Homo sapiens: one gene and its partners. The protein of the gene in region 3 interacts with the protein of the main gene of each other region in a biochemical or structural test. Each region holds a gene or a part of one and is shown on either strand. Other genes may lie near its edges. The genes, in order: CLCN3, RSRC2, GOPC, TECPR2, TTC24, USH1C and NRXN3.

Evidence for each region.
Region 1: the proteins of GOPC (region 3) and CLCN3 form a complex in vitro, tested with the Homo sapiens proteins (one study listed by BioGRID).
Region 2: the proteins of GOPC (region 3) and RSRC2 interact in a test that uses a peptide from one of them, tested with the Homo sapiens proteins (one large-scale study listed by IntAct).
Region 4: the proteins of GOPC (region 3) and TECPR2 interact in a test that uses a peptide from one of them, tested with the Homo sapiens proteins (one large-scale study listed by IntAct).
Region 5: the proteins of GOPC (region 3) and TTC24 interact in a test that uses a peptide from one of them, tested with the Homo sapiens proteins (one large-scale study listed by IntAct).
Region 6: the proteins of GOPC (region 3) and USH1C interact in a test that uses a peptide from one of them, tested with the Homo sapiens proteins (one large-scale study listed by IntAct).
Region 7: the proteins of GOPC (region 3) and NRXN3 interact in a test that uses a peptide from one of them, tested with the Homo sapiens proteins (one large-scale study listed by IntAct).

What each region holds. Positions count from the first base shown.
Region 1 is NC_000004.12:169,626,734-169,631,270, forward strand, and holds part of CLCN3 (H(+)/Cl(-) exchange transporter 3), read left to right. Parts: intron 1-4,537.
Region 2 is NC_000012.12:122,506,004-122,510,531, reverse strand, and holds part of RSRC2 (arginine/serine-rich coiled-coil protein 2), read left to right. Parts: intron 1-2,081; coding exon of another isoform or gene 2,082-2,084; coding exon 2,085-2,314; intron 2,315-3,608; coding exon 3,609-3,698; intron 3,699-4,528.
Region 3 is NC_000006.12:117,559,388-117,562,796, reverse strand, and holds the end of GOPC (Golgi-associated PDZ and coiled-coil motif-containing protein), read left to right. Parts: 3' UTR 1-2,528; downstream 2,529-3,409.
Region 4 is NC_000014.9:102,365,681-102,370,217, forward strand, and holds part of TECPR2 (tectonin beta-propeller repeat-containing protein 2), read left to right. Parts: intron 1-4,063; exon of another isoform or gene 4,064-4,095; intron 4,096-4,537. UniProt on the Homo sapiens protein: Probably plays a role as positive regulator of autophagy.
Region 5 is NC_000001.11:156,578,438-156,582,522, reverse strand, and holds the start of TTC24 (tetratricopeptide repeat protein 24), read right to left. Parts: upstream 2,801-4,085; 5' UTR 2,765-2,800; intron 1,163-2,764; 5' UTR 1,159-1,162; coding exon 453-1,158; intron 293-452; coding exon 89-292; intron 1-88.
Region 6 is NC_000011.10:17,509,601-17,514,137, reverse strand, and holds part of USH1C (harmonin), read left to right. Parts: intron 1-2,083; coding exon 2,084-2,236; intron 2,237-3,616; coding exon 3,617-3,733; intron 3,734-4,299; coding exon 4,300-4,537. UniProt on the Homo sapiens protein: Anchoring/scaffolding protein that is a part of the functional network formed by USH1C, USH1G, CDH23 and MYO7A that mediates mechanotransduction in cochlear hair cells. Required for normal development and maintenance of cochlear hair cell bundles.
Region 7 is NC_000014.9:78,708,248-78,712,784, forward strand, and holds part of NRXN3 (neurexin 3), read left to right. Parts: intron 1-534; exon of another isoform or gene 535-969; coding exon 970-1,408; exon of another isoform or gene 1,409-1,713; intron 1,714-4,537. UniProt on the Homo sapiens protein: Neuronal cell surface protein that may be involved in cell recognition and cell adhesion. May mediate intracellular signaling. Functions as part of a trans-synaptic complex by binding to cerebellins and postsynaptic GRID1.

The DNA of each region.
Region 1 (4,537 bases), on a different chromosome or scaffold from region 3:
TTGGAAGGCCGATGTGGGCGGATCACTTGAGGCCAGGAGTTCGAGACCAGCCTGGCCAACATAGTGAAATCCTGTCTCTACTTATATAAAATTAAATTTAATATTAAAAAAGAATGTAATAAGAGCTGTGGGACTTATAAACCAGGAACCATGGATGAAAACCAATATATATCATATCACTCTTAATTCAGTTATGCCCTATCTTACGTTTAGAATTGTTCAGACGTCTAGTCTCATCTCCAGCTTCTCTATCTGTAGTCCTTCAGTCTCTTACCCTTCTTATCTGGCTTTCACACTGCTGCTAGTGTTGGCTTACTAAAATTCATGTCTGATCATGTGATTTCTCTAAAGTTCTTCATGGTTTCCCCTGTGTATAGATGAGTATGTAAGTTTCTTAGTGTGACACATGAACCCCTCCCCTTCATGATCTGGCCTATGTCTGCCTCTGTAGCTACTCTCTGGTCCTTTACCTCTTACATAAGCTACCCAAGCAGGTTTTACTATGATGCTTTTATGCTGTTGCGCATACTTTTTTTGTGTGTGTGCCTGTATTGACTTTTTACCTCACAGCCCAATTAATTTATCCTAATTCTTCAATATTTTGCTAAAATATTCCCTCTATTAAGTGCTTACGGACTGTGTGCCAGCCAGCTTGCTTACTTTTCTCAGGTTTATCAAATACATTGTATGTACCTCTCCTGTGATGTGTATCATACCATATTGTTGTTACTTGTTGATGTCTGTCACCTTCACTGCCTTAGGAACAGAAACCATATCTTATTCATTACCCTAGCATCTGGCTTTGTGCCTGGTACATGCTAAGTGTGCAGTCAATGATTATCAAATAAATTAATAAATGACTCCAAAAACTAGCTTTGAATACTAGATAAATGGTGATCCTGTAAACTGAGATAGGAAAAGTAGGAGGACAAGGACTTTTGGGGCAAATATTTATTTAGTTTAGGTCTTGTTGAGTTTTAGCTCTTTTACAACATCAAGGAAGACATGTACCATTTATTTCTTATACATTTGTTATTTATTCATACAATATAATTAACCCAACAAGATTTTTTTTAGATATGGACAAGATTATTCTAAAATTTACATGAAAAGGCAATGAAAAAGAAGAATAAGGTGTGAAAGATCAATCTACTCAATTTCAAGACTTATTATGTAGTTACAGTAATCAAGACTGTGTGGTATGGGCATAGATAAAGACACAGATCCGTGGAACAGAACAGAGAACTCTGAAATAGATCCACATAAATATACCTAGTTTTTGTCAAAAGCATGAAAACAGTTCAACGGAGGTAGATAACTTTTTCAACAGTTGGTACTGGAGCAATTAGACATCCATACACTGTCCCATTCCCAACCCCCCAATAAAGGAACCTCAACCTATGTCTCATACCCTGTGCATGCACAAATTAAAATGGATCACAGACTGAAATATAAAAATATTAAACTATAAAATTTTAGGAAAAATAGAAGAAAATTTTGGGGAGGTAGGGTTAGGCATATGTTTCTTTGACTTGCCACCAAAAGAATACTCCTTAAAGGCAAAATTGATAAATTAAACTTCATCAAAATTAAGTATTTTTGCTCTGTTATAGACCCTGTTAAAAAGATGAAAAGATAAACTAGAGAGGGGAGAAAATATTTGCAGACAACACAACTGACAAATAACTAGTATCTGTAATATATAAAGAACTCTTAAAAGTCAACAGTATGAAAGCAGTCCAGCTAGAAAACGGACAAAAGACATAGTCATTTCACTGAAGAGGATTACACATATAGCAAATGAGCACATAAAAAATGTTCAGCATCATTACCCATTAGGGAGATGCAGATTAAAGCAACAAGATACTACCGTACATCTATCAGAATAGCTAAAATAAGAAATAGTGACAACACCAAATGCTGGCAACGAGGTCAAGAAACTGGATCACTCATACATTGTTGGTAGAAATGTACAATGGTACAGCCACTCTGGAAAACAATTTGGCAGTTTCTTTAAAAAACAAATATGTGACTACTGTATGACCCAACTATTGTACTCTGACATTTAGCCCAAAGAAATAAAGGCTATTCATTTTCAAAAACCTGTACATGCATGTTTGTAGCAGCTTTATTCATAGTCACCAAAACATAGAAACAAGCCAGATGTTCTTCAGTGGGTGAATGGTTAAACAAACTGTGGCATATCTGTTATCATAGACTACTCTGATAAAAAGGAAGGAACTATTGACACATGTAACACCCTGGATGAATCTCCAGAGAATTGTGCTGAGAACAAAGAGTTAATCCCCATATCATATCATTTATATAACATTCTTGAACTGGCAAAATTATTGAAGTAGAAAACAGACTATGGGTTGCTAGGGGTTAAGGAGGGATGGCCATAAAACGGCAACATGAGAGATACCTGTGGTGATGGAATATTCTGTATCTTGACTGTATCAATGTCCTTATCTTGATTGTGATATTGTACTATAGTTTTGCGAGATGTTCCCATTAATGGAAACTGGGTAAAAGATATACAGGATTTTTTTCTGTATTATTTATTGTAACTACATGTGGAACCACAATTATCTCAAAATAAAAATTTAATTAAAAAAATTGAACATCTACTGTGACACATTTTTTTTTTTTGAGGCAGATCTTGCTCAGTTGCCCAGGCTGGAGTGCAGTGAGTGGTGTGATCTCAGCTCACTGCAACCTCTGCCTCCTGGGCTCAAGTGATTCTTCTGCCTCGGCCTCCTGAGTAGCTGGGATTACAGGCACTCACCACTATGCCCGGCTAATTTTTGTATTTTTAGTAGAGACGGGGTTTCACCATGTTGGCCATGCTGGTCTTGAACTCCTGACCTCAGGTGATCTGCCCTCCTGGGCCTCTTAAAGTGCCGAGATTACAGCTGTGAGCCACTGCGCCTGGTCTAATGTGACATATTTTGCTAACCATTGAGTATACAGTGTTGAGCAAAAATTGAGTGTCAGACCTCATGACACGTTCTACAATGGCAGACAGATATTAAATAATCACAGAAATAAATTTAATATTCAACTGTGGTAAGTGCTGTAAAAGAGAGCTATAAGAACTAATAATGAGAAAATTTGATCCAGATAGTAAGTGGGTCAGCGAAGCTTTGCTTACTAACTGCATGACTTTGGGCGAGTTATTTACATGCTTTGTGCCTCAGTTCCTCATTTTTAGTGGGGACAATAATAGCACCTATTCTTTAAGGTTGTCATATATTTAATATGAATATTAAATGAATGAATTTGTAAAGGGCTTAAGATATTGCCTAGCATATAGTAAGCTCTGGTTAAGAGTTTGTTAAATAAAGGGATACTTGATGTAAGACCTTGTAAGAAAAATGAGTAGGAGAGTTAATTCTTTTTTATTTTTACAATTTCAACTTTTATTTTAGATGTGCAGGTTTATTCCATGGGTATACAGCATGATGCTGCGGTTTGGGGTACAGTTGTACCCATTACCCAGGAAGTGGGTATAGTGCTCAACAGTTTTTCAGCCCTTGCTTCCTTCCCTACATTGCCCGCGCTGGTAGTCCTCAGTGACTATTGTTGCCATCTGTACATCTGTGAGTACCTGATGTTAAAGCTCCCACTTAAAATGAGAACATGCTGTATTTGGTTTTCTGTTACTGTGTTAATTCACTTAGGATAATGGTCTCCAGCAGCATCCCCATTGCTGCAAAGGACTTGATTTTATTCTTTTTATGGCTGTGTAGTGTTCCATGGTGTATATGTACCATATTTTCTTTTCTTTCCTTTTTTTATTTTTATTTTTTTTTGAGACAGAGTCTTGTTCTGTCGCCCAGGCTGGAGTGCAGTGGCACGATCTTGGCTCACTGCAAACTCTGCCTTCTAGGTTCAAGCAATTCTCCTGCCTCAGCCTCCCGAGTAGCTGGAATTACAGACACCTGCCATCACTCCCGGCTAATTTTTGTATTTTTTTAGTACAGGGTTTCACCATGTTGGCCAGGTTGGTCTTGAACTTCTGACCTCAGGTGATCCGCCAGCCTTGGCCTCCCAAAGTGCTGGGATTACAGGCGTGAGCCACCGCACCCAGCCTGTACCATATTTTCTTTATCCAGTCCACTATTGATGAGCACCTAGGTTGATTCTGTGTTTTTGCTATTGTGGGTAGTGCTGTGATGAACATATAAGCACATGTGTCTTTTATGTAGAACAATTTATTTTCTTTTGGGTATATACCCAGTAATGGCATTGCTGGGTCAAATGGTATTTCTGTTTTAAGTTCTTTGATAAATCTCCAAACTGCTTTCCACAGGGGCTGAGCCAATTTACATTCCCACTGACAGTGTATAAGCATTCCATAGCCTTGCCAGCATCTGTTGTTTTTTGGCTTTTTAATAATAGCCATCCTGACTGGTGTGAGATGGTGTTTCATTGTGGTTTTGATTTCCATTTCTCTAATGATTAGTGACGTTGGGCATTTTTTCATCTGCTTGTTGGACAGTTGTATATCTTAATTTGAGAAGTATCTGTTCAT
Region 2 (4,528 bases), on a different chromosome or scaffold from region 3:
GTTGTTACGGAGTCTCGCTCCATCGCCCAGGCTGGAGTGCAGTGGCGTGATCTCAGCTTACTGCAACCTCTGCCTCTTGGATTTAAGCGATTCTCCGCCTCAGCCTCCCCTGTAGCTGGGACTACAGGTGTGCACCACCACATCTAGCTAATTTTTGTATTTTTAGTAGAGACGGGGTTTCACCGTGTTGAACCAGGATGGTGTCGATCTCTTGACCTGGTGATCGTCCTTCTTGGCCTCCCGAAGTGCTGGGATTACAGGCATGAGCCACCACGCCCGGCCCCAGATGTCTTTTACGATTTTGGAAATGTAGTTTATGCAAGAAAGTGAACTGATCTGAAATATGTATTTCTCTTTCAAGAAATCAAGTTTTTATGCGTAACAAACATTGCAGATTTCAAAAATTATCAGGCCTGGCTCAGTGACTCACTTCTGTAATCCCAGCACTTTGGGAGGCCAAGGCAGGTGGGTCACCTGAGGTCAGTAGTTCAAGACCAGCCTGGCCAACATGGCAAAACCCCATCTCTGCTAAAAATACAAAAATTAGCCAGGCGTGGTTGTGTGTGCCTATAGTCCCAGCTACTCAGGAGGCTTGAACTCGGGAGGTAGAGGTTGCAGTGAGCCAACATCACGCCATTGCACTCTAGCCTGGGTGACAGAGTGAGACCCTGTCTCACGAAAAAGAAAAAAACAAAAACAAAAAACAAAAAATTATCACGAAGAGCTTACTGTTGATTTGGTATGAAATTTAATCTGGAAGATGGTTTTTTGTTGTTTTTTACATTTTTGGTAAACAGTGGCACTTATTTGAAACTCTAAAAGTTTACAAATAGCCATTTTATTTTTACTACATCATTACTCTCTTTGGTAACTCTGGTTCCCATAATGTTGGTAATTTAAGTACTTTTTAAGGTTATATTCTGGACTGACAAAAATAGGTAATCAGAGGTGTCTTTTTTTACAGAGGACTGCTCAATCACAGTGGAAATACCAGGGCTTTATTGAACTTGGACTTAGCATAATACCTGCATACTGTTGTTGTTTTTGGGTTTTTTTTTGTTTTTGTTTTTGTTTTTTTTTTTGAGACGGAGGCTCATACTGTCGCCTGTGCTGGAGTACAGTGGCACAATCCTGACTCACAACAACCTCCACCTCTCGGGTTCAAGTGATTCTCCTGCCTCAGCCTCCTGAGTACCTGGGCTTATAGGCGCCTGCCACCACGCCTGGCTAATTTTTTTGTAGTTTTTATTTGAGACGGGGTTTCACTATGTTGGCCAGGCTGGTCTCGAACTCCTGACCTTGTGATCCGCCTGTCTTGGCCTCCTAAAGTGCTGGGATTACAGACGTGAGCCACTGCGCCCAGCCTTAGCTGCATACTGTTTTTCAAGTATATGATGTGAGCATCAAATGAAATGTCCATGAGAACATTTCATAAATTTAAAAAAATACAAGGTTTTATTGTTTTGTAATTATACCTTAGAAACACTATAGTTCATCTCCACTGAAATCATACTTTCTTACTATTTGCAGAATTCTCTATCCTCAAAGTAAATAAATGGGTTTTTTTTTTGTTTTGATACGGAGTTTCGCTCTTGTTGCCCAGGCTGGAGTGCAGTGGCATGATCTCGACTCACTGCAACCTTCGCCTTTTGGGTTCAAGTGATTCTCCTGCGTCAGCCTCCCGAGTAGCTGAGATTACGGGCATGTACCACCACGCCCGGCTAATTTTGTATTTTTGGTAGAGACGGGGTTTCTCCATGTTGGTCAGGCTGGTCTCGAACTCCCAACCTCAGGTGATCCGCCCACCTCAGCCTCCCAAAGTGCTGGGATTACAGGCGTGAGCCACTGCGCCTTGCAATAAATGGTTTATATATCAAGGGTTTATGTAGAAATATGTCCGTTGATGAACACAATAAATGTTTGCTAAAAACTTGTGAGCTAATACTCAGTCATTTCCTTGGATTTGGTGAAAATCCTGCCTTTTTGCACATTCATAGCTTTTTATAAATCGTTCGTTAATGTAAATCAGGAGGTTTATGTTTTAAAATCGTTTTAAAATCCATTTTTGTATTCTCTTCAAGCAGCTGCAGCTACTGGAGGTTCTGTTCTCAATGTTGCTGCCCTGTTGGCATCAGGAACACAAGTAACACCTCAGATAGCCATGGCAGCTCAGATGGCAGCCCTGCAAGCTAAAGCTTTGGCAGAGACAGGAATAGCTGTTCCTAGCTACTATAACCCAGCCGCTGTTAATCCAATGAAATTTGCTGAACAAGAGAAAAAAAGGAAAATGCTTTGGCAGGGCAAGAAAGAAGGGGTAAGTTCTCTTATTCTGCTTTTCTGTCGTTTATTCCTAATTAGTAATTGCTTAGAAAAACAAATTTGGGTTGAAAAATATTACTTTCGGCTTAACTTTGTAAGAACCTGGGGTGGCCAGACGCGGGTGGCTTATGCCTTTAATCCCAGCACTTTGGGATGCCAAGTGAGCGGATCAGTTGAGGTAAGGAGTCCAAGACCAGCCTGGCCAACATGGCAAAACCCTGTCTCTACTGAAAAGAAGATAAAAATCAGCTGGGTGTGGTGGCACACACCTGTAATCCCAGGTGCTTGGGAGGCTGAGGCAGGAGAATCGCTTGAGCCTGGGATGCAGAGCCTACATACAGTGAGCCAAGATCATGCCACTTAGCCAGGCATGGTGGTGGGCACCTGTAATCCCAGCTACTTGGGAGGCTGAAACAGGAGAATCACTTGATCCTGGGAGGCGGAGGTTGCAGTGAGTTTCCAGCGAAACTCCATCTGGAAAAAAAAAAAAAAAATCACGCCACTGCACTTCAGCCTGGGTGAGACCCTGTCTCAAAAAACTTATAATAAGCTATGATAGTCTTATTTGCCAGTTATTAATACTAAAATAAAACATAATTGATTGAAGTCAAGCTTTCAAAGAAAACTAATATTACCATAGAAGTAGTAAGGAAAAGAGGCTACTTGGTTTAGAATTTTTCATAGATTATGAGGTACTTTTTTTTTTTTGACATTATTTGCAATGACAAATGACATTAAATGCAAATGACATGCAGTCGCAAAAATTGCATGTTGAAAAAGGTCTATGACAGGAAAATAATCCATTTTTTTATTTTATTTTTATTATTTTTGAGACAGAGTCTTGCTCTTGTCACCCAGGCTGGAATGCAGTGGTGTGATCTCAGCTCACTGCAACCTCTGCCTCCCAGGTTCAAGCAATTCTCCTGCCTCAGACTCCTGAGACCCTCCTGGGTCTACAGGTGCCCACCACCATGCCAGGCTAGTTTTTTGTATTTTTAGTAGAGACGGGGTTTCACCTAGTCATCCAGGCTAGTCTCGATCCCCTGACCTCAGGTGATTTGCCCACCTCGGCCTTCCAAAGTGCTGGGATTATAGGAGTGAAGCACGGCGCCAACCTCTTGCTTGTATTTCTTTGCTTTGTGGTTTCTTAAGTCTTGAAATAATTAAACTTACATTGATTGAATGCTATCCATGGTGTTTTTTTTTTTAATTTAGACATTGTTGAGAGATTTCATGTCCTAAAAAATATTTAAATTTTACATATTTTAAAGTTCAGTGTTTGTTAACAGGACAAATCCCAATCTGCTGAAATATGGGAAAAATTGAATTTTGGAAACAAGGACCAAAATGTCAAATTTAGGAAATTGATGGGTATTAAGGTGAGTTTCACATGTGCCAGGGGATCTTTGTATTAGCTATTAGCCCTCCTGCACTGTTCTTCCCTCATTTTCTTAGTTCTGGTCTTTACTCAGGTGTCAGCGTTTTTGAGTTCTTTCCCACCACCTTTTGTGAAATAACAAGCAATCCCATTCTGAAACATTTCCATCTCCCCTACCCACTGTCCTCCCTACACACACACTTGGAGAGAGAGAGAGAGACGGGGTTTTGCTCTGCTTGCTCTGTCACTTGGGCTGGAGTACAGTGGTGCAGTCATACCTCACTGCAGCCTTAAACTTCGAGGCTCAAGCAGTCCTTCCACCTCGGCCTCTCAAAGCCCTGGATCACAGTTCTGAGCCACTGCGCCCAGCCTCCATCCCCATTTTCTACTTTACTTTCCTCTGTGGCATTTATACCCTGACATCTTCTACATATTATGTTTTTTCCAACCTACTAAACTGAAGTTAACTTTTGTTACACCCTGCTATATTCCAGACCTAGAAAGAACATTGCCTTGTCCTTTGGAGGTGTTCAATAATGAATGGAAATTAAGTTATTGAGATCAAATACATATCCCAAAAGTATATTTTTGTTTGTTTGTTTTTTGTTTTTAGTATAGACGGGGTTTCACCATGTTGGCCAGGCTAGTCTCGAAATCCTGACCTCAGGTGATCCACCCGTCTCAGCCTCCCAAAGTGCTGGGATTACAGGCGTGAGCCACACTGCACCCGGCCAAAAGTATAATTTAATAGTGTCAGCCTAGTTCACACCTGTAATCCCAACACTTCGGGAGGCCGGGGGGCAGGCGGCAGGGGGGATCCCTGAGGTCAGG
Region 3 (3,409 bases):
AGAAATATAGGCTTGACTTAATTTTTGTAACTGAAAGGCTTTAGACTTAAAAAAATTTATTGTGCATCCTAAAATCTAAACCAATTATTAATGATCATTTATTGTAATGAGTTTGCATTTCAGCTTTATTCAATGCAGTACAAAATAGTTTTCTTTAAGCAGTCTTTTATCAATCAATGCTGCACTAGAAATAGATTCTCAAAAGTTACTAAACATTTTACTTTTTTTGTTTTTTAAAAGAAATGCAGATGAGTGTAAAACATCTGTTCTCAATTATGTTGATCTGTGTGCGCAGTACTGGAGCATTTACCCATTCATGTTGAGCCTCAAATGCTTGTTTTCTGGGGTCCACAAAAGACAGTTTTATACATTTTGAGTTGTTCATAAAGTTTGTCTTGTGATAGTCCTGGCACTTAAAGACAAATTTTTCTGGTAGTAAAAGTTCAGATTTATTACTATGTCATGAAACACAGTACATTCAAATCAAACGGCAGTTTTCTTTCTAAGTAAATGATTTCCAGTCATCTAAAAGGTGGGCAAGATGAGATAAAGACATTTTGATACAGTAATTGTTTTGGTTGGGTTTTCATGTCAGTTTATGTTTGACTAAAGCTCTCTTCATATGCAGGTTTATAAATTTGTTAGGTCTGTTGTCCCATGATTAAACATGGAGTGCCTCCTCTCTGATTTAATATTCTGCAGGTCATTGTAACCTGCTAGGCAAAGTCACAACATTGCATTAAAGAGGTGATAGCTTTGCTAATATCACTGTTTTAAAGGACGTACAGTTAAAGGAATATTAAGTGGGAGAAAGCCTACAAGGCTTTTAGAATATTATCAGTATCTTCATTTCTGGTATTCAGATGTTATGTGATAAAACACATTTTTTTTGGCTTTCCCAGATACACTATATATTTGTTCAAGGGTAAATCTATAAAATGTATATACTTTATTTTGTGGTTTTGCTATTTATAAATTTAATGTTTTAACTGTTGCTCATTTATGGTTTGTTTTGGGTGGTGGTGTTCATCTGTATATCACCATGTTAATTTGTAATGGAAGTGCACTTCGTAGTGTATATTGTTACTGACATTAAAATACTTTATAGCATTGTCTCTGAGCAAAAGCTAGTATTTAATTGTACAAATGAATAAGCAAGTTACATGTTATTGTTTGCTCTTGACAGGGTAGGCCTCTTAAAAGAAAAAAAACAACTTGTTTTTTCTTTATGAATCCCCTATGCCAAACACATACCTTCCATGCATGACATGAGATCTGCAAACTGGATTTTAGCCACCGTATTTATTTAGTCAAAAAAATTGTCCATTGTAGCAGACCCGAAAACCTTTTTGCTGTGACATGAAACCATGTTATTCTTATCTTCTTAAAACACAGCCTGGGATGGAATGGCCATGGCATTTTTTTCAGAGAACATCCTTTATCTGCTATGACTGAATCCTTAGGAAATGTAAGCTATAACCCTTTGATTTTCAAGAACTACCGAATAAGTGTATGAAGAGGTGGTTTTTTAAAACTTCAAGTTGGAATTTTTATGAGGTCACTGTGTAATTTGAAGAATTGTGTGAGATTGTCATGATATAAATTCCTTTTAAGGACTGATAAATAGAATGAAAAGTTTCCAGGTAGTTTAAAACTCCACAGGTCAGTTTCCTTTTCATTCCTGCTTCACTGTGGTTTATAAGCCTACGGGAGAGCACCGTTGCTCAGATGCTACTGTGAGCTTCCTGTCCGGTGTTAGAAAGTAACTAGTTAAAAGTTCATTTTAGAATGTATGGTTTTTGGGGATGAACTAAGAATTAGTTATTAGTTCCAAAGGACTGAGAACCAATTTTAATATTTTCACATTTATAGGAAAGAAATTCATATGTCCCTGAAACTTCTAGGACAAAACCAAACAAGTAAGGAGGGAACTGTTGCAAAGCCATTTCATCGAGAAGGGGACAGAAGGAGAAATACACACATGTATACACAAACAGAATGGTTGAGAAAACGTTTTAATAAAATGTGAGGGTTGTATGTGTGCGTGTATATATTTACACTTAACCTCTAAAATTCTCTTCTACAGTATCTCTGTTATGAATATGATGGAAAAGCAACATTTTGGTGGTGAGACTATTGTTAAAATAAATTTGAGAAAGACGAAAATTTTGTGAGTCTTGATAATTACAAGTCAACAGCTATCGAAAGTTAGCACAGCTTGTCTGTGGTGCTGTTTTTTTCCCCACTGCAGTGGACTTATGCTGTTTTCATGTTTAGAAACAAAAAGGTTTCATGTGATTCATGTGTAAGATGCACAGTATTTGACATCCTGATTATGTAATCCCTATTCCATCTATCCAGTCTTACACTTATGGTTGGCCTCAAATCTATTGCATTTATGATAATGTATTATATCTAGTTGAGTTTAATATTTTTTTATTAGCCTGTAAATAAAGATGGCATCTTCTACATTAAAATGATATTGATCTCATTTTTTTAAATAAACATTTTGTTTCCTTGACGTTAAATATTTTGGCTTGTTATTTATTTCTAGTAGTTCTATTATTTGTACCAACATGTCATAAAGTCTGTGCAAAGGACTTGGCTTAATTTTGTGTTATAAATATTGCCAGCTGTTGTTATCTATGAGGAAAACATTGATGAAAGTTAGAAAATCAATCCTGTTTTTAAGATACTATTTAAAAGGGTATTCTTCCATTTTGACATCTAAGTATATATGATTTAGAAGTTCCTAAGTTATATGTAAAATAATTTTTGGAAAATACTTGTAAATGAATTACTTGAGTTATGAACATTTAGAAATGTTATGAACATTAGAAATACATTTTTGTCACTGACTAACCTTGATTTAGTGCTAATACATATATGCTTTCCGTGTGTTGATTTAAGCTCCCAATTCACCAAGTGATTTGAAAAGAAGTCTTTTCCCCAGAATACAACCCCATAGGATATTGGTCAATTTATGAATTTTTTTTTGGTCAGTTTATGAAATTTTAAAGAGAACTTGTATTTTCATTGTTAATCAGTATTTTATTTTAGGTGGTTTTATAACTAACCTTAAAGAAACACTTTAAAAGTATTGCAAATTACCGTGCACTGTTGGTGCTGAATATTTGTTCAATAATGAACCTTTTTCAGGTGTGATTTGAGAGCTATAATCACCACGGCAGCAGCCATGAGAATGCATCTGTCAGTTCTCGTGCAGGAGGGAGCATAGCTTACTGAAGGTCCAGCTGCTGTGGTCTGAAATCCATCCCTGTGTACATGGTGAGGCTATGCTCCTCCATGCTGCTGCCAGTCAGTGACTGATTATGACAGGGATATTATATGATGACTCCTCAACTTTAGCTGGAGCACTCCACGATGGTCTTGCCAAACTCCCTTAGGA
Region 4 (4,537 bases), on a different chromosome or scaffold from region 3:
CAGAGAGGAGATCAGTGGTTGCCCAGGGCTGAGAGAAGAAGCGTGTAGAGGGGTGATTGCTAAAGGGTAGGGAGTGCACAGTGTGTGGATGGAAGAGTGGCCTGAGATGAAGTTAGATATAGACTGTTTTGTCATAGTGTCTAATTTCCATGCTTGTGTTAGGCTTTAGCTTGTGACCATTGGGTAGCCAATGGGGATGGGAGCAAGGAAGTGACAAAATTTTGTCTGGAAGATAAATGACTGCCTCAGTCTCATTACGTTCCTCCTTAATAATTTAATACTCAAATAATTAATAGATGTCGTAGCCAGATTTCAAACATAGATTCTACAATAGGGATACAAATTGTTGCTTCCTAGGGATTTTGGAGAGAATCCTGAAACCATTAGTGTACCCAGAGCACTCTGATAACATGGTTATTGTACAGCGAAGTGGATGACTTAGACTCTATATTAGTCCTAGCTCCAGTTTGAGAAATCATCCATCTGGGTGGCAGTTGGGTGTTAGTAGTCAGCAGTGAAGGCTAGCTGCCACCTTCCAGGGTTATGAGATTGACAGGGCTAGTGGGGAAAGGAAGCATCGTAACTTGAAGGATGCCATAGGGTGGTGTTTTGTATTTTTTTAACTGAAATAGTCATGACTAAGGAAGCATTATTCATTATATTTTTATTTATTTATTTATTTTTGAGATGAAATATCACTCTGTCACCCAGGCTGGAGTGCAGTGGCACGATCTTGGTTCACTGCAGCCTCCACCTCCCAGGTTCAAGTGATTCTCCTGCCTCAGCCTCCCAAGTAGCTGGGATTACAGGTGTGCGCCACCACACCTGGCTAATTTTTGTATTTTTTAGTAGAGATGGGTTTCGCCATGTTGGCCAGACTGGTCTCGAACTCCTGGCCTCAAGCAATCCTCCCACCTCGGCCTCCCAAAGTGCTGGGATTACAGGCGTGAGCCATCATGCCCAGCCCAATTTTAAAAATTGGATTGAGACTATTGTTTTGCAGTAAGACCTGAAGTTAACAAATCTTTACTGAGCATCTACTCTGTGCCAAAGCTATTATTAGATACTAGGATTTACCTTGGTAAGCAAGAGAGAATTCATGTTGCTTACATTCTTGTAGGAGAGATGATTTTTAAATGGTTTAGCAAATAAAGCAATTAGAGGTTGTAATGAGGATTATGAAGCACATATGATAGAGGAAAGAAGGGACAGTTGGGTACTCTTGAGTGATCTGGTCAGAGAAGGCCTTTCTGTGGTGGTGATATTTAAGCTGAGACCCCACAGTTGAGAAGAAGCCAGATAAATGGAGTGAGATCATTTATTCTGCATAGAGGAAATAATTATGACACCTGAGTGGGACAGAGTGGGTCAGTGGAGCTAGAACTTGGAGGACAAGTGGAGACGGGTAGAGAGGTGACAGGGGAGCTGCAAAGGGCTTAGACCACACGGGGCATTTGGTTTTTATTCTTAGAGCACTGGGCAACCAGTGAGGAGTTTTGAGTAGAATGGGTAGTATGGTCTGATTTCTCTTTGAAGGAGCTGATATTTTCCTTTGTTTTTTGGGGGGTAACAGCTTTATTGAGATATAATTTACATGCCACACAGTTCACCCATTTATATACAATTCAATGGTTTTTACTGTATTCACAGCTATGCAACCGTCACTACGTCAATTTTAGAACTTTCTCATCACCCTAAAAGGAAACTCCGTACCCTTCAGCAATACACCCTAACCCCTTCTTCTCCCAGCCCTGGGCAACCACTGACCTACTCTGCCTACAGCTTGCCTATTCTAGACATTTTGTATACATGGAATCATATAATATATGGTGTTTTGTGCCTGGTTGCTTTCACTTAGCATAATATTCTCAGGATTCCTCCGTGTTGTAGCATGAATCAGTACTTCATTCCTTTTTATTGCTGAACAGGCTTCCATTGTGTGGATAGATCACATTTTGTTTGTCCATTCATCAGTTGATGGACAGTTAGGTTGTTTTGACATTTTGGCTATTATGAGTGGTGATATTATGAACATTTATCTACAAATTCTTTGTAGATATGTTATCATTTCTATTGGGCATAAACCTAGGAATAGAACTTCTGGGTCACATGGTAACTCTGTAACCTTTTGAAGAACTGCCCACTGGTGGCTGCACCATTTTATTTTTCACCAGCAATGTATACAGTTTTTTCCACATCCTTGCTAACACTTGTTCATACCCTAGTGGGTATGAAGTGGTATCTCCTTGTGGTTTCGATTTGCATTTCCCTGATGAGTAATGGTGCTGAACATCTTTTTATGTGCTTATTGGCCTTTTTTTTTTTTTTTTTTTTTTTTTTTTTTGGAAATAAAGTCTCGCTCTGTTGCCCAGGCTGGAGTGCAGTGGTGCGATCTTGGCTCACTACAACCTCCACCTCTCGGGTTCAGGTGATTCTTGTTCCTTCGGCCTCCTGAGTAGCTGGGATTACAGATGTGCGCCACTATGCCCACCTAATTTTTGTGTTTTTGGTAGAGACAGGGTTTCACCATGTTGGCCAGGCTGGTCTTGAACTCCCAACCTCAGGTGATCCACCTGCGTTGGCCTCCCAAAGTGCTGGGATTACAGATGTGAGCCACCGTGCCTGGCCTTACTGGGCATTTGTGTGTCTTCTTTGGAGAAATGTTTCTTAGACTTTGCCCATTGTAAAATTGTCTTTTGTTGTTGTTTTGAGATGAAGTCTTGCTGTGTTGATCAGGCTGGTCTCAAATTCCTGGGTTCAATCGATCTTCCCACCCCAGCCTCCCAAGTAGCTGAGACTATAGCCACGTGCCACTGCACCCAGCTTTTAAAATTGTCTTTTTATTATTGAGTTATAAGAGCTCTTTATATATTCTGGGTAAAATCTCTTTATCAGATATATAACCAGGAGATATTTTCTTCCATTTTGTGGGTTTTTTTTTTTTATTTTTGTCGGTGGTGTGGATTAGATGTATTTTTACTTTCTTGATGGTGCCCTTTGGAGCACAAGCGTTTTTCATTTCAGTGAAGTCAAAGAGCTAATTTTGATGGCTGAATGAGCCTGGCTTCTGGGGGCAGGTGTGGAAGACCATGGCAGCAGTGTAGGCGAGGGATATGATAGCTTGTACTGTGGCATGGCCACAGAGTTGGTGAGGAGGCGCCAGGCTTGAGGGAGGCTTGGAGATAGGGCTGATGGACTGAGTTGAGAGATTGTTGTACGGGTGAGGGAAACAGAGGAATTGAGGGTGAATACTAGGATTTCAGCTTGAACAACACTTTTGATTCAAAATGTGATTATGCTGTTACCTGCCGGACAATTGTGACAGTTTCTAATACCTGCTGGAGCCTAGCAAGGGCAGCCCTGCGCTCCCTCCCTGGGTTCTGAAGTTGCTTTTGGTAGGATTATCACTGAGTGTGCCAAGGAGATGGTCAGGGATTCTGACCTTTTGTAATACCCACTAAGACCTCCTAAGCCACCACAAATAAACATATTATCTGAGTAGAATAGTGCACTTGCTCTGCAAATGCACTTTTGAGGCAAATCTCTTGACTCCCTTCTAGCTAGACTGCAGTCTCAAAGCCCTTCTTGTGTAGAGCCTGCGAGCTGTCAGTGGATAGCATCAAATCAAGCGGATGGATTCTTGAAAGCTAAATGTCATCATTTGACAGAGCTACTATGAGGAAAAATATTTTTATTTTTAAAAAAGTTTTATTGATCGATTGATTTGAGATGGGGTCTTGCTCTGTCACCTAGGCTGGAGTGCAGTGGCTTGATCATGGCTCACTGCAGCCTCGAACTCCCGGGCTCAATGGATCCTCCAGGTTCAGTCGATCCTCCGGGCTCAATTGATTCTTGTGCCTCAGCCTCCTGAGTAGATGGTACTACAGGCACGCACCACCACACCTGGCTACTTTTTTGTATTTTTTGTAGAGACAGAGTTTTGTCATGTTGCCCAGGCTGATGTCAAACCCCTGGGCTCGGCCAAGTGCAGTGGCTCACGCCTGTAATCCCAGCACTTTGGGAGGCCGAGGCGGGTGGATCACAAGATCAGGAGATTGAGACCATCCTGGCTAACACGGTGAAACCCCGTCTCTACTAAAAAAAACAAAAAAACAAAAAAACAAAAAATTAGCCAGGCGTGGTGGCAGGTGCCTGTAGTCCCAGCTACTCAGGAGGCTGAGGCAGAATGGCATGAACCCGGGAGGCGGAGCTTGCAGTGAGCCGAGATCGCATCACTGTACTCCAGCCTGGGCGACAGAGTGAGACTCTGTCTCAAAAAAATAAATAAACAAACAAGCAAACAAACAAACCCTTGGGCTCAAGTGATCTGCCCACCTCAACCTCCCAAAGTACTGGGATTACAGATGTGAGCCACTGTGCCTGGCTGAGGAATAACTTTTTTTTTTTTGAGACAGAGTTTCGCTCTTGTTGCCCAGGCTGGAGTGCAATGGCACAATCTTGGTTCACTGGAACCTCTGCCTCCTGGGTTCAAGCGATTCTCCTGCCTCAGCCTCCTGAGTAGCTGAGATTACGGGCA
Region 5 (4,085 bases), on a different chromosome or scaffold from region 3:
GGCCATCCACCCTTAAGCCTTGGGCCCCTTTTGGAACCCCTTCTTAGTGTCTTAGTCCCAGTCCCATTCCCCGGCCCCAGGCACCCACCGTGTAGGTCAGCAGCCTTCTGGTGAAACTCCCGAGCTTCCTGATAGTTGCCGAGGGCATTGTGGGCCATCCCGAGGTTTCTTAGCACTGTGGCCTGCTCTCCTGGCACCCAGCACAGGGGCAGGGCCTGCAGGAAGGCCTCCACGGCCAGCGGGAACAGCTGGAGCTGGGAGTAGCCCAGGCCTAGATCGTTATAGAGGTGCCCTAGAGGGAATAGCCAGGGTCACTGGTAGCCAGACCAGATATAAATGAGGCTGGTACAGCCCCTATCGACTCCTCCAGGGTTCCCCAAACCCAGCCCTCTGAGTATCATCAGGCTCTGTGTCTCCCCAGATCCCATGCCTTCCCTGCCCGAAGGTCTCACCCAGCAGTCGCCTCTCAGTGCTCCTCTCGGCAAGCCTCCGGCTTTTCTCCAGCACCTGCACAACTTCCCCCACCCGATGCCGCCCACTCTTCAGCATACATCCTGCCGCAGCCCCCAGTGCCAGGGCTGCGGCCCGCAGCTGTCTCTCTTGAGCATAGGCCTGGCTTGCTTCCTGCAGGCAGTGGGCTGCTAGCTCAGGCTGTCCCAGAGCCTGGTAGCAGGCTCCCATTTTTGCCCAGGCTTCTCCCTGGTCACCCTGTGGCTGGTAGTGGCCCAGGGCCCTGTGGTACCAGGCCAAAGCTTGAGGCAGCTCGCCGAGGGCATGGTAGGCCAAAGCCACATTGAAACATTGGTCGCCGTGTCGCCTGCCCTGTGCCTTCTCTTCAGGGTGGGCTCGCAGGAGTAGCTCAAGGCCTCTGGCTGGGTCCCCAGTCTCCACATAGGCAGCCCCCAGGTTGAAGGCGCAGGCCTGGAGCACAGGGGTATCCCTGGTTTGTGGGGCCTTGGAGGCCAGAAGGAAGGCCCTCTGGAAGTTGTTCAAGGCTTCATGGTTCTGGCCAGCCTGAAGGGCCCCATGGCCAGCCCTGGTGAGGGCTTGGATGCTGGCTTCTTGCCGCAGCCACTTTCTTTTCTTCTTTTTCTTATTGGAGCTTGAGGGCTCAGGTTCTGGCCTCCGGGGCACATCCTCAGGGTTGGGGGAAGACATAGGGCTGACAAAGGGGAACAGAGGGCTCAGTATGTCAGCCTTGGCTTCCTCTAGATAGCAGGACCCCCTTAGGGCAATTCAGCTCTACCCCTGCCCTAGCATGACCCTCAGGGTTTCAAGGATTGCTCTCTGATCTCTCACTTTGTTTCTTCTGTCCCATTGGGCACCATATCCACTCTCACTCTAACTTCCTGACTAATTCTTAGTCCTCCTTCAAGACTCAAGTCAAGTAACAGCTTACTTCAGAACGCACCTTCTTCTCAACCAACTGGGTACTCCTGTGGTCCCATAGCACTTGATGCCTATGTCTTTTATAGCATTTATCACACTGGGTCAGAGCTGATGACTTTATTGTCTTCCCCCCACTACTAGATTTGGAGCAACTTGCAGGGTCTGGCACACAGTAGATTCTCAATAAATGTTTATGAAAGGAGATGAAAAAGTTCTGGAGATGGATAGTGGTGTTAATTGCACAATAATGTGAGTGTACTTAATGCCACTGAACTGCACATTTTAAAATGGTTAAAATGGTAAATTGTATGTTATGTATATGTTACCACCATACGAGTGTTTTTGGATTGAACAAATAGGCCAGGTGCGATGGCTCACACCAGTAATCCCAGCATTTTGGGAGGCTGAGGTGGGCAGATCACGAGGTCAAGAGATAGAGACCAGCCTGGCCAACATGGTAAAACCCCGTCTCTACTAAAAATACAAAAATTAGCCGGGCGTGGTGGCGGGCGCCTGTAATCCCAGCTACTCGGGAGGCTGAGGCAGGAGAATTGCTTGAACCCGGGAGGTGGAGGTTGCAGTGAGCTGAGATCGCGCCATTGCACTCCAGCCTGGGTGACAGAGAAACTCTGTCTCAAAAAAAGCTGCAAATAAATAGATGAAGGAACCGCATATGCAGGGCCTCTCCTCCATAACTTCCTTCACACTGTGCCTCCACAGACACCCCCCTCACTCATCATCTAGGTACTCCTGCTATCTAATCTCAAGACGTAGTTCAGGTCAGTTCAACAAGCACTCAGTGAGCCCCTGCTATGTGCTAGGAACCACACTAGGCACTGGGGACCCTAGGGTGAGGAGGCTCCTGAATTGGCAAGGAGCGAACCTCCAGGAGAGAAGGATTTTCTGAAAAGGAGTGTGGTGTGGGACAGAACATGCATTTACTGCCCCTTCCCTAGCTCAAGGGGAAGCTCTCTCTCCATTTCTTCCGCTTTCTGTCTGCTGGCTGGTTCTAGGCCCCCAGCCTCCTGCTCTGGTCTCCAGAGCCCTCTTAAACCTGAATACAAGCATCTCAGCAGCTTGTATATCCTGTTTGTATTTTTCCCCTTGAAGGGCAAAAGCTTTTTATGAACTCTCCTCCCAGGAGATGGGAAAAAGAGTGGAAAAGACCCAGGCCCTGGGCTCTTGACCCCTCCCATTTTATCCTTTTTTTCCCCTTTTTTAGGAGGGGCAGGCAGAGGAAAAGCAGTCTCTTTTAAAAGAAATTCCCCCTGCTTCTAAGAACACCCAGAAATCCTGCCTTTTCAAGGCCTTCCACTCCAGGGCATTCCTGACCACCCCCATCCAGTGTGGGGATCCCCACTGCAGGACACCTTACCTCCTTGGGTCTTCTCCGCAGCTGGCTCTCTGGAATGGCCCCTCTGGCTTGGGTTACCTCCCAAGCTGTTAGCTCAAAGCCCTAGAGGTTACTAGACAACCAGGTACCACCCTCCAGTCGTAGGGAATTATTTGAGTGACAGCTCTGAAGCCGTATCTTAGTGCTAAACCTCGGTAGTGCTGCAGACACACCCCCTCAAGTCCCTCACTTCAAGAAATGAATCAAGGCATCAGAGGGGCGCTTACTAGTTACACCCTCAGAAATCATCTACTTCATCCCCTCATTTCACAGAGGAAGGGACCAAGCCTCAGACAGCAGATGTGACTTAACTAAGGTCACAGAGCAGTCACGTAGCTGGGGTTAGACTCTATGTTTTTTTTTGAGATGGAGTCTCACTCTATCACCCAGGCTGGAGTGCAGTGGCGCCATCTCGGCTCACTGCAACCGCTGCCTCCCGGGCTCAAGTGATCAAGTGATTCTCCTGCCTCAGCCTCCTGAGGAGCTGGGATTACAGGTGCACGCCACCACAACCAGCTCATTTTTGTATTTTTAGTAGAGAAGGGGTTTCACCATGTTGGCCAGGCTGGTCTCGAACTCCTGACCTCAAGTGATCTGGCTGCCTTGGCCTCCCAAAGTGCTAGGATTACAGGTGTGAGCCACTGCACCCCGTCTTTTTTTTTTTTTTTTTTTTTTGAGACGGAATCTTGCTGTGTTGCCTAGGCTGGAGTGCAGTGGTGCAATCTCAGCTCACTGCAACCTCTGCCTCCTGGGTTCAAGCCGTTCTCCTGCCTCAGCCTCCTGAGTAGCTGGGATTACAGGTGCCTGCCATCACACCTGGCTAATTTTTGTATTTTTGTATAGACTGGGTTTCCCCATGTTGGCCAGGCTGGTCTTGAACTCCTGACCTCAGGTGATCTGCCTGCCTCTGCCTCCCAAAGTGCTAGGATTACAGGCATGAGCCACCACGCCCAGCCAACTCTAGGTTTTTTGATTCAAGGTGAGTAGCCTAGGGTCCCTTCCACTACACTGTGTGATTGCAAGTTGTTTTTTTTGTTTGTGTGTTTGTTTTTGAGACAGAATCTTGCTCTGTCATCTAGGCTGAAGTGCCTAGATGATCACAGCTCACTGCAGCCTCTACCTCCTGGGCTCAAGCGATCTTCCCACCTCAGCCTCCCAAGTAGCTGGGACCACAGGCATGTGCCACCACACCTGGCTAATAATAATAATAATAATAATTATTATTATTATTATTATTATTATTATTATTATTATAGAGATGGGGTTTTGATATGTTGCCCAGGATGGTCTCAAACTCCTGAGC
Region 6 (4,537 bases), on a different chromosome or scaffold from region 3:
AGAATTTGTGCCAGGGCATGAAGGATTCATGATTCTGACTAAGCCCTTTCATCAGAATTGCTTGAGTCACTCACACAGACCAGCCCTACTTGCAGGAGCCCACCGTCTGGCAGGGAAGGCAGATTCACACACAGCTAAGTAACCTGTGTGGGGCCAGTCTGAGATCAGTGGGAAATGCCATGGGGCAACTTGCCCTCTGCATCTGTACAGATATGACTTTCTTGGGCATGAGACAGAAACTGTCTACTACCCCACCCAGAAGCCCTGACTCTATAATCTTAGCACTGGTAGTTTTTTTTTTCTTTCTTTCTTTCTTTTTTTAAGCAACAGAATGGCCATTATTCTCGTGGTGGTCCTGGAGGAGGCCAGGCTCTTACTCTAGCAAGCTACCATTAGGCAGTGTTTCTGGCTCCTCTTGGGAAATTGCTGTCTGAATCTCTACTACGATGGCAGGGATTCATCTATCAACTGAGTCTAGTGAACAAGGTAGGCAAGGAACCAAGCAGGACTCTGAAGCAGTGAGAACCATTTTCTCGAGAGGCTCATACACTGCTCTGGAGGTGGGTCCCAGAGGTGACCATTTCCAGAGCACATTAGCAGTACACAGAGGTGTGTGTCTTTAGGAGAGGAGCTAGGAAGAGTCCCTCAGAGGTCCATAATGGCCCACCAAGTCCCTCCAGCTGTGGATGAATGTTGTGTGTCCATTGCTAGGGAGCTCAATTCCTTATTCCTGGCCTTGGATACTAAGATGATTCAGAAAATTCAAGAGCAGATCCCCAGAAGGCTTGTTGGGGGCGGGGGTGAGCTCAGTGAACAGGGGGTTTCCTCCTTGCCCCAGAAATTGCCCAGGGTGTGGGCTGTCTCTGCTGCCCCTCTCCTGAATGCTCGCTCTGTCCTCCACGCTGTGTGTGATAGGGGCTGACCCTCCCTCCTGCCGTGTTTCCCTTGCCCCCAGCTCATCAGGGCACCATAGAAAAACTAGGACCTCGAAGACTCAGGTCCAAATCCTGGTACTATCAGTTACAAGATGTCTGACATTGAACAAGGGACTTTACCTCTCTGAGCCTCAGCTCCTTCATCAAAGAATGAGGATAAACCTACATAGGAGATCATTGGTATAAATCCCTTGGCACATAGGCAGTTCATAAATGATCATTCTCTTCCTGCCTTAGCCCCTGGCTTCCCTGCAACCCCATGAGAGAAGCAGCCAGGAATGCAGGCTCGGTGGGTCTAATTCCTACAGGAAAAATAAGGAGTCTATTTGCCTTTCATGTCCCTCCCCAAATCCTCTAGAACCCTGATGGTGAGTGTAAAGCAGTTAAGCCATTCTCTCCATGCCCTGCCTCCCAGTCCTGCAGTTTCCAGCTAGCCCTCGGTAGAGGGGCACAATTCAGAGGAAACTGTGGGTCTAGACTCTCCAGGGTGAAATGGTCCAGAGCTTAAGCATGCGGGTAAAATCTGATGTCCCTGGGTCTGAGCCCCCAGGTCTCAGTGTGACTCCTATCACTTCTAGCTTAGGACGGGACCTCTACAGATGAAGCTTGCCAGCCCTCCCAGATTTTCTCTGGAATCTCCCAGGATGCATCTCTGAATCTGAACATGAGATGATGCAGAAGGCATGTGCCAGATACTGGAAAATCAGCACAATGCCCTTTATTTATATGGCACTTATTTATTTTTTTATTTTATTTTTTATTTATACAGAACTTTTACAAAGTTCTTTCATGGATGTTATTTCATTGGCACTGGGTGGCAAGCCTGTGGGGGAGGTATTTTTACCATTTTGGAGATGAGGCAAATCAGGCCCAGAGAGGTTAAGGAACTTAGCCAAGGCCACACAGCTAGTTAGTGAACTAATAAGCCAGTCTTTCTGGCTGGTAAAGAGAATGTGTCTCCCACTCTGCAGTAGGTAGCAGTGGCCTTCCTGTCCTAAACCTGAGGTCTGATGTCCAGAGTGGTGAGAGAGCTGGGGGAGGGGCTCACCATGGGATGGTTGTGTTATGTGAGGACTGGATGCCCCGTGTGCTGTGCTGTCGACACTATTTCTAACCTTTGTCATATAAACAATGCCACATCTACTCAGAAAGGAAAAGATAAGAAGAAAGCCAAGTATGGCAGCCTGCAGGACTTGAGAAAGAATAAGAAAGAACTGGAGTTTGAGCAAAAGCTTTACAAAGAGAAAGAGGAAATGCTGGAGAAGGAAAAGCAGCTAAAGATCAACCGGCTGGCCCAGGAGGTATGTGTCCTGCCTGCAGGCCAGGCAAGCAACCCTGGGACACAATGTGGTCGTTCTCCATGTGCTCCCAGAGGACCAGCTGGAGTTGTTCTCCTCAAATGGCATACAAGGGTGGAGTGAGCCCTTTCCTGCTCCCCAGCCTGGAGAGAGAGATCATGCCACCTGCCCAGGGCCATCTGAGGTTAGCTCCTGGCTTAGGAATTGAAACTAATCTCCTTGCTTGGGGGTGTGAGTCTTGCTCCTGGCTTTGGAATTGAAACTAGCCTCCTTGGTCGGGGGGTGTGAGTCTGAGGTTAGCCTTTCTGACCAGATGGTAGGTCTCAGGTTAGCCTTTGATACACCTGGCTTAGAGATTTGAGTCTGTCCTCTTCACTCTACCCCACCAGAGTCTAAGGCTGGGCCTCTCCATCTCAGGTGTGGCTCTGAGGCTACTTAGAGTATGGTCTGCGGCTAACCCTTCTGCCTTGCTTGTAGCTTTGAAGTTAGGCTTCCACTGACCTGTCTACGAGTCTGAATCACTCTGGCCTCCCTTCCCAGGTTATTGTAAGACCAGACCCCCCCCCACCCAACTTAGCTTGGCTCTGAGAATATGGGTCTGAGGCTAACCCCCTTATGCAGGTGGTAGGTGCGAGGTTATCTCCCAATTAATCAGGCTATCAGTCTAAGGCTGCTCCCCTCAACATAGGGTGTGTCTAAGGCTAGACCTCATCAACCTGGGAATATATCTGAGGCTGTCCCCATGAAGACATGTCCAAAGCAACCTTACACCATGAATAATTCCTATGCTAGGTGAGATGGGTAACCTTAACTCCCCAGCTGTAGGAGGTATCATTGTTTCTGCTTCTCTTTAACGCATCCATGAATCAGAATGCCAATTTGATTAGATTATAAAACCAGAGAAGTCCTGGAAAATGTGAAATGCATTAGGTCTGACATTATGAACAAATTAGCCACAAAATTAAAAATAAGATTGAACTTATGCTTCTGAGGGCAAGGCAGAATGGAGCAGGAAAAAAAAGAGTCAAGTTAAACTCTTGGAATGTGCTGGGGGAGGCTACAAAAACTCCATTCTTGGAAAATCATAAGAGCCTCAGGGTTCATGGGGATCTGGGATCCAGCTAATCCCTCACAATACATAAGCCCCTTTTCTGATTTTGCCTACAAGTTCTGCTTAGTGAATTTGACACCCCGCCACTCTCTTCTCCCTTGCTGCTGCCTCCTTGAGGGCCAGTTGGAACAAGCCCAGGTCTCTTTCTAGATAGCTGATGCACCTCACAGTACTCTGGAGTTTCTAAAGGAGTGCTTTCATGCTATTTCTATCCACATGTTATTCAAATGTGCCCTTTGTCCTCTCCTTTCTGCGCCGATCCTGGGTCCCAGGTGTCTGAGACAGAGCGGGAAGACCTTGAAGAATCGGAAAAGATTCAATATTGGGTGGAGAGGCTCTGTCAAACGCGCCTCGAGCAGATTTCCTCTGCTGATAATGAGATTTCAGAGGTAACAGAGCCCTTCTTTCCACATAGACCCTCCTGCTGTCTTCAGAATGACCCACTGTGGGGACAGCGGGAGGTGAGATGACAACTAGCAAACGTCACTAGCCTCACAGTGCCCATCCACTGTCCAGGCCCACCCCTACCACCCCACTCCCCTCTTGAGGAGGAGGGATATGTCTGTATTTCTGGGTATACTCCCAGAGTGATCTCTAAGTCCCAGCTCATCTGCGATAGTCTCAGTTAGGCCTGTTGTCCTGGCATCATGACTAAGAGTCCCCCTTACACTCTCAAGGGCATTCCAGTTTAGAGAATGAACTCTGTGAACACCTTACCACCCACAGATGGCATAACTTGGGGCTCTTCTGCATTTGGGCACTCCCTAACAGCAGCCTAGTATGGCCTCAGCTGGGCATCCAGGTGGCAGAGGAATGGCGCCCCATGGTTCTGATGTAAGGGTGGTGGGTCTCCAGTAGCAAGAGAAACAGATTAGAAGAGCATAGTGCTCGCTGTATTGTGAAGTGGAGCTCTAAGCAGAGTGACAATTACAGAACTTCCTTGCAACACCCCCAGATGACCACAGGGCCCCCGCCTCCCCCGCCTTCTGTGTCTCCCCTGGCCCCACCCTTGAGACGCTTCGCAGGCGGACTGCACCTGCACACCACTGACCTGGACGACATCCCTTTGGACATGTTCTACTATCCCCCCAAGACTCCCTCTGCCTTGCCTGTGATGCCCCACCCTCCACCCTCCAACCCACCCCACAAGGTCCCGGCGCCCCCTGTCCTTCCCTTATCTGGCCATGTGAGCG
Region 7 (4,537 bases), on a different chromosome or scaffold from region 3:
ACCTTGGGTAGGGCATGGAGGCAGAAAGCTCTGCTGGACCCCCTTGCAAGGTGAATTAGTATCTGGTTCAGTATTCTTTGTAAAATCAGACTCTCAACTAAATCAATGTCCTTGACTGACTGGCTGAAATAGGGCTTCAGGGTGTCTCATTCTACCACTGTACAGAGGGCACATGCAATGTGCAAAAAATAAAAACAAAAACAGACCTCTGTCCCCACCAGCTTTTAACACTTACTCTTTTCTTTCAAGTAATATATCCACATGGTTGAAAAAAAGTCTAACACTGTAAGAGGGCACAGTGAAAAGTAAGTCACCCTCCCACTCCAGAATATTAATCCCGCAAATATACTCCCCAATGACAATTTTATAGTTCCAAAGAGACTTTATGCTTACTGGAGCATATATACATATAATGCCCCCACGCCCCCACACTTTTACACAATGATAACATAATGCACCCTCTATCCTGTTCCTTGACAATTTCACTTAACAATGTGACCTGGAGAGCTTCCACATCAAAACCAAAAGCAATACCTTGTTTGCAAGGCCTGCCTAATATTCCATTATAACGCTGTGCCATCTGCTATTGATGGTCATTTAGGTTGTTTCTGGTATTTTACTAAGGGTGCTTCAGTAAATCACTTTGTATGAAGTATGTGAATCCATGCAACTCGATCTCTCTTGATTTTTATTTGCAAGCTTATGTTGTATAACTTTCTGACAACACAAGAAATTGGCCAGGAGACAAAAGAAATTCTGTAGAAATATAGAGGCTTTTTTGGAGCTTGTGTGCACATCAGATGTTTCTTCAGATACCTTTTTGGTTCCTGTGTCTCATTGTTTCTCATGTTGTTTTGGGCTATGTCCTGAAGCCTCTTTTTGGGTCATTTTTCCAGGTGCCCAGTGAGTGATGGATGGATACTGTTTGCAAGATTGATTCACATGGCACTTTTGTTTGGCTTTTGACAGGTTGTTTATAAGAATAATGACATCCGTCTGGAGCTGTCTCGCCTGGCCCGGATTGCGGACACCAAGATGAAAATCTATGGCGAAGTTGTGTTTAAGTGTGAGAATGTGGCCACACTGGACCCCATCAACTTTGAGACCCCAGAGGCTTACATCAGCTTGCCCAAGTGGAACACTAAACGTATGGGCTCCATCTCCTTTGACTTCCGCACCACAGAGCCCAATGGCCTGATCCTCTTCACTCATGGAAAGCCCCAAGAGAGGAAGGATGCTCGGAGCCAGAAGAATACAAAAGTAGACTTCTTTGCCGTGGAACTCCTCGATGGCAACCTGTACTTGCTGCTTGACATGGGCTCTGGCACCATCAAAGTGAAAGCCACTCAGAAGAAAGCCAATGATGGGGAATGGTACCATGTGGACATTCAGCGAGATGGCAGATCAGGTAGGAAGAGGCAGGATGTGTGACTGAGACTAGACGAAAGCTGTAGCTTCTCAGTTTGTTTTTTGGCTTTATGTTTCTTAATTTTCACCCTTGCATGCTTGTTGATTCTTTTGCTACTCTCTTTAATGGCTGTTGTAAAATTATGTTTCTGAAAAGATACCTGTCTCATAGATGGCTCACATTCTCCGCTTATCTCTCTTGTCACTCACTGCGCAATTGTCTCAGTGATAGCTCTACGATCCTGGAGCTAAGGATGGTTTTACAAGTAGCATTTCCACTGCTACCAGAGCAACTCTCATGTCACTGGTGTGATCCGCCCCCATTGCCCCATTCTTTGCTTCTCTTTTTCCTCATCACCATGGAAACCGATTGTGACATCACAGATGCTGCATTATGTGATTATTTTGTAGGATAAACTTCACTGTGCAAGAATTTATGCAACAATACACCCTTCAGTAATTGGCAAGAGTCATGTTGCATGGAGAAATTATGACAAGAAAGGAAAAGGCAAATTGATTTTTCCTGAAGATACATTCAATTTAAAGCCTTCCTTTGGTGTAAAAGCCTATATTTCACTCTTTGTTCAGACCTCACTAACTCTCTCTTCCTCTTCATAACCTTTTACATTTTGTTTAAATGGCTTTGTTTCTGCAGCTGCAGATCAAACAAGCTAGCCCCAGGCAGTACATAGCTACTATGGAATAGTAACAAAGTGGGGGTGGGGGTGGGGCAAAATAGTCAGGGGTTTTTGAATGCCTGGACAGTCTGCCTAGCTTTCTATGGACCATGTGGCAATGAAGGTCACATTCTGTGCTATCAGAAAGGGCATTTTCCCAAGAGCAGTAATTAGAGCATTTGCCATTTCAGACTCATTTCCTGATTCTCCATTTAGGTAGGATGTACTCAAGAAGGGTCTTGGCTTCATGTGCCATATTTATAGAGATTCACTTTCCTGATGAACATTAAAAAGTCTCTATTTGGATATTTTCTTTCTAGGTACATTTGGCCAGTAAGAGAGAGCAATAAGTTCCCCAAAAGGCTGAAACTGGGAGTGACTGAGCTTTGGTGGGTTGGCTTTTCTGCATAATTCCAAAGCTAGGCTGACGGCAGAGATAGCAATATTGCCCTTAGGAAGAGCTGGATGGGTTCTTTGCAGAGGGCAGATGGGTGGCAGATTGCAGCCCTGGCTATTTTATTGCCCAGTAGGAATCTTTACTGGTTGTCTGAAATCTGATCAGAACCAAGAGCCTTCAAATTAAATGTGCTCGTTAAGCAAGAATGAATAGTGTCTACCCTTTTACACAGAAAAACACCCAAAAAATTAATTTCTTTGGAGGCTAAATCCCGCCACACCCCCCATACTTCTTCTTCTTCTTTTCTTTCTCCTTCTCTGCTTTTCAGTAAAATGACAGCAAGAGCAGAGTCAGAAAGCTGTTCCAGAATTATAAAGAAAACACTGCTGTTGGTTTTTAAGAGCATGTGTTTGGGATCTCTGAGGTTAGGTCACGGTGGACGGGTTTTGTGTCTGACTAACCTAGACCTTGGCACAGCATAAAAGTTACCTTACCCGTGTCTCAGGCAGGCTAAAACACACAAAATTGCCATTTGTTCATTTCTGTCTGTTCCTAATACAAATTTTTCTTTCAAACAATTTTGAACAAAGGGGAACAGTTTTTGTTGTTTAAACCACCAGTGGACCCAACTTCAACAAATATGTTTGAATTTCAGAAGTCTTAAATTTCATACCTGGGAGCTAAAGCACTGGCTAATTCTTTTCTCTTTTTTTTTTTTTTTTTTTTTTTTGAGACAGAGTTTCTCTCTTGCTGCCCAGGCTGGAGTGCAATGGCGCAGTCTCGGCTCACTGCAAACTCTACCTTCCAGGTTCAAGTGATTCTCCTGCCTTACCTCCCAAGTAGCTGGGATTACAGGCACCCTCCACCAAGCCCAGCTAATTTTTGTCTATTTAGTAGAGACAGGGTTTCACCATGTTGGCCAGGCCAATCTCGAACTCCTGACCTCAGATGATCAACCCATCTCGGCCTCCCAAAGTGCTGGGATTACAGGAGTAAGCCACTGTGCCAGGCCTGGCCAGTTTTTTGAACTACTGATGAATTTGATCAAAGCCTATTAAAAACTTACTGAGTAAACAAACAATTGTCCCATGAAAGCAGTATAATCTAAAATTTTAATACAGTCTGTTAAACTTTCATTTTTTCATGAGAATGTTTTCTGGTAACTTGTTTTAGATTATAAATCTATACTAAAGGATAGTTATAAAAACAAGTGTATCTAAATGTGGTGCCTCCTTCCCTGATAATCTTGAAGAATAATATAACAAACAGTGATCTAGAAAAACTTTTATGATCACTCCTCACTTGGGCAAGTCAGTCTTAGAACTTGTTAAGTGCATTCAAAACTGTTATGGTCACACATTCAGAGAACAGATTTTCCTCAGGTTGTATTTAAGGCTCTAAAATTTAAATTGATTCTAGTATTGTCTTTACTTGGCAATAGATGTCTCCCCATTTTAGTTGGTGATCAGATTAGCCCTGTGGACCTGTGAGGGGTAAAGAAAGAAAACTATGCAACAGAGAAAATAGTAAGAGATAGAGACCTCAACTTCCTCCTTTGTAAGATAGAGAAAATAATAACTCCTACCTCCCAATATTGTTTTGAGGATCAAGTCCAAAAATGCACATAAAATAGTTAAAATGGTAGCCAGGACATTATTGTTGTTATATAAGTGTTTGAAAGATTGAAAAACAAAAGGCAAAGCATATTTCTCTAGGAGTAAACTTCTAGGAGGGAGTAGTGAAGCAGATTGTTAAATTCCCCTTAATATCCTTTCTATGCTTCTACTCTTGTGTTGACTTTGCACTTTATTTATTGTTTTTAACTTTAGTTAATTAATTAATTAAATTTCTTGAGAGCTAGTCTCACTCTGCCACCCAGCTTGGAGTGCAGTGGCACGATCTCAGCTCTCTGCAATCCCCACCTCCCGGGTCCAAGGAATTCTCCTGCCTCAACCTCTCGAGTAGCTGGGATTACAGGTGCCTGCCACCACACCTGGCTAATTTTTGTATTTTTAGTAAAGATGGGGTTTCACCATGTTGGCCAGGTTGGTCTTGA